Homo sapiens: one gene and its partner. The protein of the gene in region 2 purifies or fractionates together with the protein of the main gene of each other region. This does not show direct contact. Each region holds a gene or a part of one and is shown on either strand. Other genes may lie near its edges.

Region 1 (4,914 bases), on a different chromosome or scaffold from region 2:
AGTTTGTTCAAACAAACATGTTTGGCATGGTTTTCCATATAGACTTTCCCTGCGAAATCTTTACACAACAATAAAATATTCCAGAATAGGAAAGGCTTAGGTGATCTATAGCAGGGACAACATAACTACATAAAATATTTCACCTAGCACTGCATGTTGAAAGCATCCGATTTTCTTTACTAAGTTATATTTTCAAATATTCATCAAATTGTGAACACATTTTACATATAATGTTCTTCCGAAAATACATAGACAGGATCTGTTCTAACTACAAACAAATGTGTCAGAGAGAAAGTTCATTTCACTATTTAAAACCTGAAATCCGAAACAGTTTAAACATAATATTTTATGTGAGTTAATTTAGTCTAAACTTCAATTTATTTTTGTTACTTCAATTCTACTAAAATATACACTGTCGAAATTAGCAACCAGATCAAAAGTAGTATCTTTCCATTCTTTGCCTATCCACAAAAAGTGGGAAAAAAAAACATATAGTTAACCTAAGAAATTCTACTTTTAGCATTTTAAGGGTTTCAAAATCTATTAACCAAAATGTTTTTTAGGAGCTGGGCTGAGCCTTCATTTCTCATTTCTGAGTTAACAGAATAGAGAACATGTTACCTTTGACTTTTGTAATCATCAGCGTATTAAAGAAATCCCTTCTAATTTTAATTACAAACGTAATAATTCTTATAAATAAAACAAATAAAGCCTACATGGACACATATATTCCTTTACTTTTTACAAAAGTCTTTTTACAAAAGACTTTTTACTTTTTACAAAACTGATACAAGATATCAGTTTATGTTTTTCTAAAAAAAAAATCTACTCATGTGAAAGAAATTCACACTTTGCAAAATTGGGCTGTTCACTATGGAACTTATGAATGCAATAGTAAAACAAAAGCAGTCAAACATTAAAATATGCCAATATTATGTCAGAAAAACATTTCACTATTGCAAGAAAAGAAACCTTGAACACAATTTAAAAATAGGAGTTTCTAAAAAGTTTGAATGCAAATAAGAATAAAGTATTCATTAAACATTACATTTTGCCATTCTGTATGTCTATGTCTCATGCTTAAAGCATTTTATTTGTGGGCTCTAAAAAACATTTTAAAGAAACGACAAAAAAATTTAGTTATTCCAACTCTTCCTTTAAATAATATGAGATTAATTCAAAGTAGCAGATCTCCTTTAGTTTCTAACTTTACCAAATTAGGTAGGCAAAGGTTTACAAAAGCAGTCATGATATTTTTGTCAGAAGTTATTTTCAATAATGTTGATAAATATTTGATAGTTTGATAATTGATATTTCACAGGATTAAAAATATTTTTAGAAAATATTAACCCTGTCATATTTCACAGGATTAAAAATATTTTAGAAAAATAATTCACTCAAAAGACATTATTTAAATCTTTGTATGCTCAAGATGCCACTTTGTGTTTCTTTGTAACTGCAAAATAATGCAGAATAATCTTTCATACAAGTAAAATAAATAATAACAACCCAAAGATAAGATTATGCTTAGGATATACTTTTTGAAGAAACATAAAAACATATAATAAAACAGTACTATAAAATGCCAAAAAAAAAAACCCAGGAAATTGTACTTACAGCCACAGCTCTTTTAATAAACGGTATCTGTGTGCCACTGTCCAGATCTTCATTTATAATAAGTCTTCTAGCCCACTGCCCTGCCCTGACAACACCACTACCATGAATTAAAACCATCAGTTTCTGTGGATTTGTCAAAGCATCCTCACTCATAAAGATAAAACTCTTTGGTTCACTCTCAGTGGCATCTACCTGTAATTAAATAAAATTAAATAATAAATAAATGTCTTCTGATCAGGCATACACATAAATGAAAAAACAACTAATGGCTGTTACAAAGTATTAAATGGTTACTATAGAATTATAGAAGTAAAAAACAATTTTAACACAAAATTAAAATATTCAGTAGAGGTTAACAATTATATATTAGTTGGATGGGACAAGACATGATAGTAATTTAAATATAAAAATACAAAAAATATTGGTAATATGTTTCTCTTCATTATTATTGTATATTTAGTATTATATTATCATTGTAAATAAAAATAACTACTTTTTTAGTGCCTCCTATAGTCTAGCTGCTATGCTACCTGTTGTAAAAACATTATCTCATTCAATAACAACCCATTTAGGTGGTACTATTATTATATTGATTTATAGATGAAGAAATTGAGGCTTAGGGAGTTTAAATAAGTTGCCCACGGTCACACAACTATAAGTCTATAGTTGTATAACAGAAATATATTGCACCTATAATAAAAAATAGAAAACTAAAATTGGAGATAGACGTATTGGAAAATCATATATCAGCCAGGAATACCACTAAACTTTTAAGGGGAAGAAGAGGAAACTATTTAAAAACTAACCATCTATTCTATTCTTACCTGATCTATGTAAATGGACTTCCAAATTTCATTCAGATTGTGAACACAGGATTATATAACAATTATTTTTACAAAGCCACATTATGTACTCCAATGAACTTACTTTATAAACTAGTTACTTACAGAATAAAAAGTAAATATTTTTATCCATTTTGATTGTACTTAATATTTAGATTGTTAACTATATGATGTATGATTTACATTTGAAAGACACAAAACACTTTTAGAAAGAGATAACTTCCCAACCTTTTGTTACATATGCCATGACACACTGAGTGGTATACCACATCAGCACTGGCGAGTGACTGGAAATGGAAGCCTTTCAATAGCCAGATCAAGCAGAAAGTTGACATTCTGGTGGCTGGTACTCTTACATAAAGAAGGTCAATCCACATATTGTGTAACGTAATAGCTCTTCACTTTGTCAACTGTATATGTTCATACAATTATCAAAATAGGAAGTATACAAAAACTCTAGATGCCCCCCCCCCCCCCAAAAAAAGCCCTGGATTCTAAATACTCCCAGTCATTACGCTTAGGAAGAGAAAAATAAAATAAAATAAAATAAAATAAAATATCTGTACTTCTAAAACAATCAGGCTAGTTTCAGTAAGAGATGGCTTAGGCATTTGTGCAAACACAGCAAAAATGGCAATTATTTCAGCAAGAGCAGCATGGACACAGGTCTTAAAGAAGAAATAACACCTTTTCATTGAAGCCTTCCCTGACTACCACTTTTAAAATTCCAAACATGTCCCGAGAATTCCATAGTCCCCTTCCCTGTTTTATTTTCCTCCACGGCACATACCAAGATCTAACATATTGTATGCTTTACTCTACATTTTTGCAAATGTGTTTATTCACGGCCTGCTCCCTCCACTAGAACGTAAGTCCAGGCAGGCACAGAGTTCTCTCGTTTGTATCCACTTATATAGTCTCAGTACCTAAAATAAAACCTAGCACATTGTAGGCACTCAGTAATTAAAAACAATAAACTTTTGGAATGAGGAATCTTATCAAGCCTCACCAGTGACTTCCTTTAGATAAAAGACATTTAACTAAATAATGGATCCTCTAAAATGGTTATAATACTTGCCTGGTTCAGAAAGCATATACTGAAGATTAAACTAGTACATAATTATAGAGAATTTTACAAGAGCTATACAATGTTAAAGAATTAAAATGACATAACTATAATTTTATTAGCAATAGCTAAAAATACAGGAAGAGAGATATGAAGTGTAACACAATCATATTAGCTTCACCTGCATGCTATGTCCAGAGTAAACAAAGTATAATGATGACAATAAATATGACTACAGCCACACAGAAAGATAAGTGGATGACAGACACAGGAAAACCAAACCTAAGAAGAAAAATTCCCTTTTACCTAGGAACATTATATAAAAATAGGAGAATTGCTCAGTTAAAGAAGCCTAAAAAAAAAGTAATGATGATAAGAACAAAATAAAAAAATTGAAAGGCAGAGCTGTCAGTGTATAACAAGAAAGAGGCCACAGGGGTTTCTAGTCACTCAATTACCAAACACTATGTCTAAACACGCACAAAGAAAAGTGTCTCTTAAGGTCAGTGAGGCCTTAATGGATCCTGGAATGGCTATGGAGATGGATATCTATTCACCTTCATGAAAAAACCTGTAGTACAGATATTCCAGTAGGTGCTGATCACTGTCTCTTTTTTCCTATTTGACTAAGTCCCCTGTTACCAAGAAACTCAGTCAATTTTTTAAGCAATGGAATACTGGCACTTTGAAGTCCACAGTAATCACTTAGAACTGAAAGAAACTTATTTTCAGATGATAAAAATGTATTTTTTATATTAAAATGCTGCTCGATAAAGGACCACTTGAGTCCAGGAGTTCGAAACCAACCTGGGCAACATAGTGAGACCCTGTCTCTACAAATAATCAAAAATTAGCTAGGTGTGGTGGTGTGCACCTGTAGTCCCAGCTACTTGGCAAGCTGAGGCTGGAGAATTGCTTGAGGCCAGGAAGTCAAGGCTGCACTAAGCCATGACTGCACCACAGCACTTAGCTTGTGCAACAGAGTGAGACTCTGTCTCAAAAAAGAAAAAAGAGGGAAAAGGGAATCACATTTTAAAAAAAAACACTGCTAAATAATTTTTAAGGGGCTACAAATTAAGGTAGCCATGAATAAATTAAAGTTTTACTTGAATACTGAGAAAAGTTGACTTTCAAAATATGAGAATATCAGAATATTAAAGAAAAACAACAATGAAAATGAAAAATGTAACAATATTAATGAGTAAGGGGTAAGAGCAGTATTTTAGCTGGTCATTGGCTAATATTCACCTCAGTTTACACAGAACTCTGACTGTGCACATGGTAACTACAATGTACTTTCTATAAAGATAGTGCTAATTTTAAATAGTAAGATACCTATATTAATAAAATAATTTCTTCTTCATTAACCTAATTAAGTTTGAACATACG
Region 2 (5,465 bases):
CCCATATCCCCTGGTGCAGGTCCCTCCATTTGTCTTCCTCCCTCTTCTCTGTCCCTCTGTCTCCAGTAGCCCCTGACTCCCTTCCCACTGTGAAGAGAGCCTCATCTCTTGGGCTGTTGTATCTCTTTCCCACTAGTCTCTTTCCTGCTGTCTATGTGGGGGTGGAAGAGGACAGGCTGCATGTCCAGGCTCTCAGCAGCCTGAATCAATCTCTTTTGAACAAATTGGAGTCTCTGGCAGAGGTATCAACTCATCAGTAAGGCAGACATCAGTGTCCACACACCCTGTTCCTGATGGGGATTGGGAGCCTCTCCTGCCATGTCTGTGCCTTCTCCATGGCCCCAGCTTCCATAGGGTGGTCCCTGGTGCTGGTTCCAGGAGCATCAACCCCTTCCTATGTGGATGGAGCCTGGTGGTGGCATCAGCATCCCACCCTTGCTGATCCCACGGTAGCCAACCTTCTCCTTGTTTGGTTTCTTTAATTAATTGATTAATTAATTTATTTTTGAGACAGTCACTTTTTCACCCAGGCTGGAGTGCAGTGGTGTTGTCTTGGCTCACTGCAACCTCTGCCTCCCCGGTTCAAGTGATTATCTTGCCTCAGCCTCCCCAGTCGTTGGATTACTCGTGCCCACCACCACACCTGGCTATCCTTGTTTGGTTTCCTAGCTTGTCCTTGACCTGGGTTCCTGTGTCGGTTTCCTGTTGCTGCTGCAGAAAATTATCACAAACATGGCAGCAGGAGAGAACACACTGACCCCTTCCACTTCTGGGGACAGAAATTGGATCCAGTTCTCCCTGTGCTGAAATCAAGGCATCTGCAGGGCTGCGTTCCCTCTGGAGACTCAGCAAATCAGTTCTCTTGACTTCTCCAGCCCTTAGAGGCCACCTGCATTCTGTGACTAGTGGCCTTCCTCCACCTTCAAAGCCCACAGTGGCTGATAGCGTCTCCCTCCCACTACACTGCTCTAATCCCCACTCCCCTCTTCCTCCACCTCTCACGCGGACCCTTGTGATTACACTGAGCCCAGCAGGACAGTCCAGGCTGTCTCCCCATCTCAAGGTCAACTCATCAACAACCTGAGCTCCACCTTCCCCTTCAGTCCCCTGCCCTATAACATAAATAGTCACAGGCTCCAGGGTTTACAATGTAGCCATCATTGGCGACAGTTATTCTTCCCACCACAGCACCCATTTCCCCTGTATTCAATCTCCCTTGACCCCAAATACAGTTGGGGCCTGGGTGATGGGACCCTGATGGACACCCCCACCAGAAGCTCTGGGATTCAGGAGGTGGGACAGTGAGAAGCCCAGACAGAAAGCCTCTGACCTGTGACCATGATCACCAGGGGGTTGCTGGGTGCCGACCACCCAGTGAGGGAGTGTGGGCGTGAACCCCGACATCTGTAGGTCCCTGCATGTGCTGGGGTCACAGGGCCCATGATGAAGCTCTCCTGGAATATTCTGCCGTGGAAGATGGGAACGTGGCTTCTGTCTTCTTTGTACAGCATGAAATTGTTAAACCCACGACGATAGTGACACTGAAGAGCCACGTGTCCTCCTCGAGGCACCACAGTGCTGGGCCGGGCAGACAGGAAGGGTTTGTCCTGACCACCTGGGGGAGAAGGAGGCACTGCCTTAGAGAGGAGGATGTGGAGCCACCCCTCCCTCCCTGTGCTCAGAAGATTCTCCCATTTCCGCTTTCTAAGGCTCCTACCACACCTGGGTGCCCAGGGCTACAGGAAGGACCCACCCCACATAGACATGGCGTCTCCCTACAACAAGTGTCAGCTGAGAACTTTGAGCAAGTGCTGAATAAGTGACTCTTACTAGATTTTAATACTGCAAAATTACTCACATAAAACAACACAAAGTAGACACGGCATGGAGGGCATGTCCTATGTGAATGGAATATCAGCCAATTCATGAACTGAGCCCCCTCAGAGGATTTGGAATGTCAGGGCCATGGCTGTGGTTTCCCCCCTCTTCTGGTAGAAAGACCGCAGCCACACTGCAGCCCCTACCGTCACGGAAACGCTGGAGGGTGTCAGTTATACCTTTGTCCTCAGAGGACCTGCTGTTCCTAGCACTGCTTCCCTCTCTTTCTCTGCTGCTGACACCACTTCCTCCCTGCACACCCCAGCTTGGAGCACCCCAGTCTCACCCCAGTCTTCACAGAGCTTGACTCAGGAAAGGGAAAGAAAGGCCAGGGAGGGCGAGGTCAGAAATGTGGGCCGAGTATCCAAGGGTCCCCTCTTCCTAGTTTATGAGAGACTCCCCGACAGGACTTCCCTCCTGTTTCAGAAAAATCCTCTTATGTGGGGAGATGACACCCTAAGGTTTGGGGACGGACTCACCCATGAGTGGCCAGGCCCCCTGCAGCAAGAAGAACCCTGGAAAGAAAGATCATGATAGACGATCCAACTGCAGGCAAACCAGGGCACCCTGCTGCCCCCACTGCACTGTGTGTCTTGGCAGCCAGGCCCTTGCTGGGCTGAAGGTAAACTTAGCCTCCCTGCTACCTGCTGCCAAGAACAGGGCTCTCAGCTGTGGAGAGACCCAGGCTCCAGGCCCAGATCAACACTTCCTGGCCCAGATCTCCACTCCAGGCCCATATCTCCACTCCAGGCCCCTATCTCCACTCCAGGCCCATATCTCCACTCCAGGCCCATATCTCCACATCAGACCCATATCTCCACTCCAGGCCCAGATCTCCCCTCTAGGCCCATATCTCCACTCCAGGCCCATATCTCCACTCCAGGCCCATATCTCCACATCAGACCCATATCTCCACTCCAGGCCCATATCTCCACTCCAGGCCCAGATCTCCACCTGCAGGCCCATATCTCCACTCCAGGCCCATATCTCCACTCCAGGCCCGTATCTCCACTCCAGGCCCATATCTCCACACCCAGGCCCATATCTCCCCTCCAGGCCCATATCTCCACTCCAGGCCCATATTTACACCTCCAGGCCCATATCTCCACACCCAGGCCCATATCTCCACTCCAGGCCCATATCTCCACTCCAGGCCCATATCTTTACCTCTAGGCCGAGATCTCCATCCCCACTCTCCCTCCCTCTATTCCCTTCCAGGACTCACCAACGCACGCCATGCTGACGACCGTGAGCGACATGGTGCTGCCGGTGCAGACAGGAGGCCGCGCCCCAGCTCAGCTCAGCAGCGCACAGGATGTTATTTGGCGCCCTGCCCATGCAGTTTACATGTTGACCACATCATGGGAGGGTGACGTACGCAGGCTCTTTCTACCTTGCATGAGGCCCAGTGGGTGCTCGCTCAAGAGCGGAACATGGCTTCCTGGAAATTGTTGTGACTACAATTGCCACCTTGCATCCTTCACTATGACCAGACTCAAAAGACGTCTCAGATCCAACCTCTCACACATGAGGTGATTGAATTCTGTGCTTACATTAAAGACTTTTGATGTATTTTTGTTTTTATCTGAGATTCAAACTTTTCTTCATGTGTAATGTGCAAAATATCTAAGAGGTATTATTAACATTATCAGAGTAATTGTGACAAAAAGCCATTCTAATTTTCCTGATGAGTTTCTAGTACTAAACCTGAGGCACGAGAATTGCTTGAACCTGGGAGGCGGAGGCTGCAGTGAGCTGAGCTCAAGCCACTGAACTCCAGCTTGGGTGACAGAGGAAGAGTCTGTCTCAAGAAAGAAAAAAAAAAGCAAACTAAATAACCTATAATAACAAATCAGAGAACTCAGGTTACCAAATTTTAAGGGGTTCTATAAGTTTATATGAAATGCAGCATCCTCATGAGAGGGGATACAGAGAACCACTGGGCAGAAAACTGTGTCTAAAATACATCTGTGGATACACAGTCCCTTTATAGTTGACAAAGGCTGCCATGTAGTTTAAGGTGGAATAGAATATTTTCTCAACAAATAACACAGGACCATAGGGTTACACGTAGGAAAAAATAAATCTAAACTTATCCTCACACTATAAAGACACTTCTTATTTTTTATCTTGTTGTTGTAAACTTTTTATGCTTTATTTTTAAGATTGACAAATAAAAATTATATACTGTGGTCCTTCACTATTCCTGGGTGATTGGTTCCAGGATCCCCATTCAGATACCAAAATCTGCAGATGCTCAAGCCCCTTGCATGAAATGGCATAGCGAAGCTGGGCACCGTGGCTCACGCCTGTAATCCCAGCACTTTGGGAGGCTGAGTTGGGTAGATCACGAGGTCAGGAGTTCAAGACCAGCTGGTCCAACATTCTGAAACCCCGTCTCTACTAAAAATACACACACAAAAAAATTTATCTGTGCATGGTGGCACGTGCCTGTAATCCTAGGGGAGGCTACTGGGGAGGCTGAGGGAAGACAATCGCTTGAACCTGGGAGGCGGAGGTTGCAGTGAGCTGAGATCATGCCACTGCACTCCAGCCTGGGTGAGAGAGTGAGACTGTCTCAAAAAAAAAAAAAAAATAGCATAGCAATTGCATAGAACCCATGCACATCCTCCTGTATACATGAAATCATCCCTTGATTACTTATAATTCCTGACACAGCCTACACGCCACTCAATTTGTGTCGATTCAACATAGTTTTTTGCTTCTTGAAACTTCGGGGATTTTTTTCTGAAAATATTTTTGATTTATTGTTGGTTCAATAAACACCTGTAAACCCCACAGATATGGAGGACCGACTGTATATTTATATTATGAAAGATGATATGTTGATATGTGTCCCCGTGGAGATGAGACTAACAAGGCCTATGACTCTACAAATGTTTCATCGTGGAATGACTCTGCCAGCTTTCCAGGTCTGCAGAGAGTAAGAATATCACTTGTTCATGTGATTCACGATCCTTGGAGCCTCCTATGTGCTGTATCTTTGGATGGAAATTGGAGTCTCAGAGACAAATCAGGCTCCATTCTGCTTCCAGAAGCTCAGAGTCCAGGGCTGAGAACCCAATGGAGAACAGATGGGGTTATGTGGACATGGTAATGATAACACCGGAAGCCTTAGGCAAGAAAAGAGTCTCGTTACCGAAACCATGAGGGCAGACATGTTTATTTGAAGGCGGGAAAACTACATTGAAATTATTTAAAAAATTTATAAGTTTTACTGCTGGCAGAAGGCTGAAAGATAGTCTGAAGGGAGGTGGAACAGCACGTGTCTAAGTGCTGTGTTAAGAGGCAGCCTCTTGTATGTTTGGAATTGTGAGTTCCTCAGTGTGATTGCAGCCTCAGGTAGACTAGGAAGTAAGCCAGTTAGGTTGGAGAGGTGGGCAGGGGTCAAGTGAAATGGAGAATTGTGGGCTAAGCAAAGGAGTGTGTTTTCTCTCCAGCAGGCAGTGGGGACCTTAGACATTTGTAAGCAAGAGAGAGGCATGTTCAGATTCGTGGTGTGAGGAAGAGCGATGCCCTAAGATGAAGACTGATGCCTTCAGATTCCAGCTGCTGGTACATGGGAG

Evidence for each region. The genes of interacting proteins can lie anywhere in the genome.
Region 1: the proteins of KIR3DL2 (region 2) and ARB2A purify together in Homo sapiens (affinity purification with mass spectrometry; 2 studies listed by BioGRID and IntAct, with this or other methods). This does not show direct contact.

The regions. Positions count from the first base shown.
Region 1 is NC_000005.10:93,957,160-93,962,073, forward strand, and holds part of ARB2A (cotranscriptional regulator ARB2A isoform 1 precursor), read right to left. Parts: intron 1,810-4,914; coding exon 1,618-1,809; intron 1-1,617. UniProt on the Homo sapiens protein: Plays a role in the regulation of alternative splicing, by interacting with AGO2 and CHD7. Seems to be required for stabilizing protein-protein interactions at the chromatin-spliceosome interface. May have hydrolase activity.
Region 2 is NC_000019.10:54,848,148-54,853,612, reverse strand, and holds the start of KIR3DL2 (killer cell immunoglobulin-like receptor 3DL2 isoform 1 precursor), read right to left. Parts: upstream 3,171-5,465; 5' UTR 3,138-3,170; coding exon 3,104-3,137; intron 2,394-3,103; coding exon 2,358-2,393; intron 1,616-2,357; coding exon 1,331-1,615; intron 1-1,330. UniProt on the Homo sapiens protein: Receptor on natural killer (NK) cells and T cells for MHC class I molecules. Upon binding of peptide-free HLA-F open conformer, negatively regulates NK and T cell effector functions. Acts as a receptor on astrocytes for HLA-F.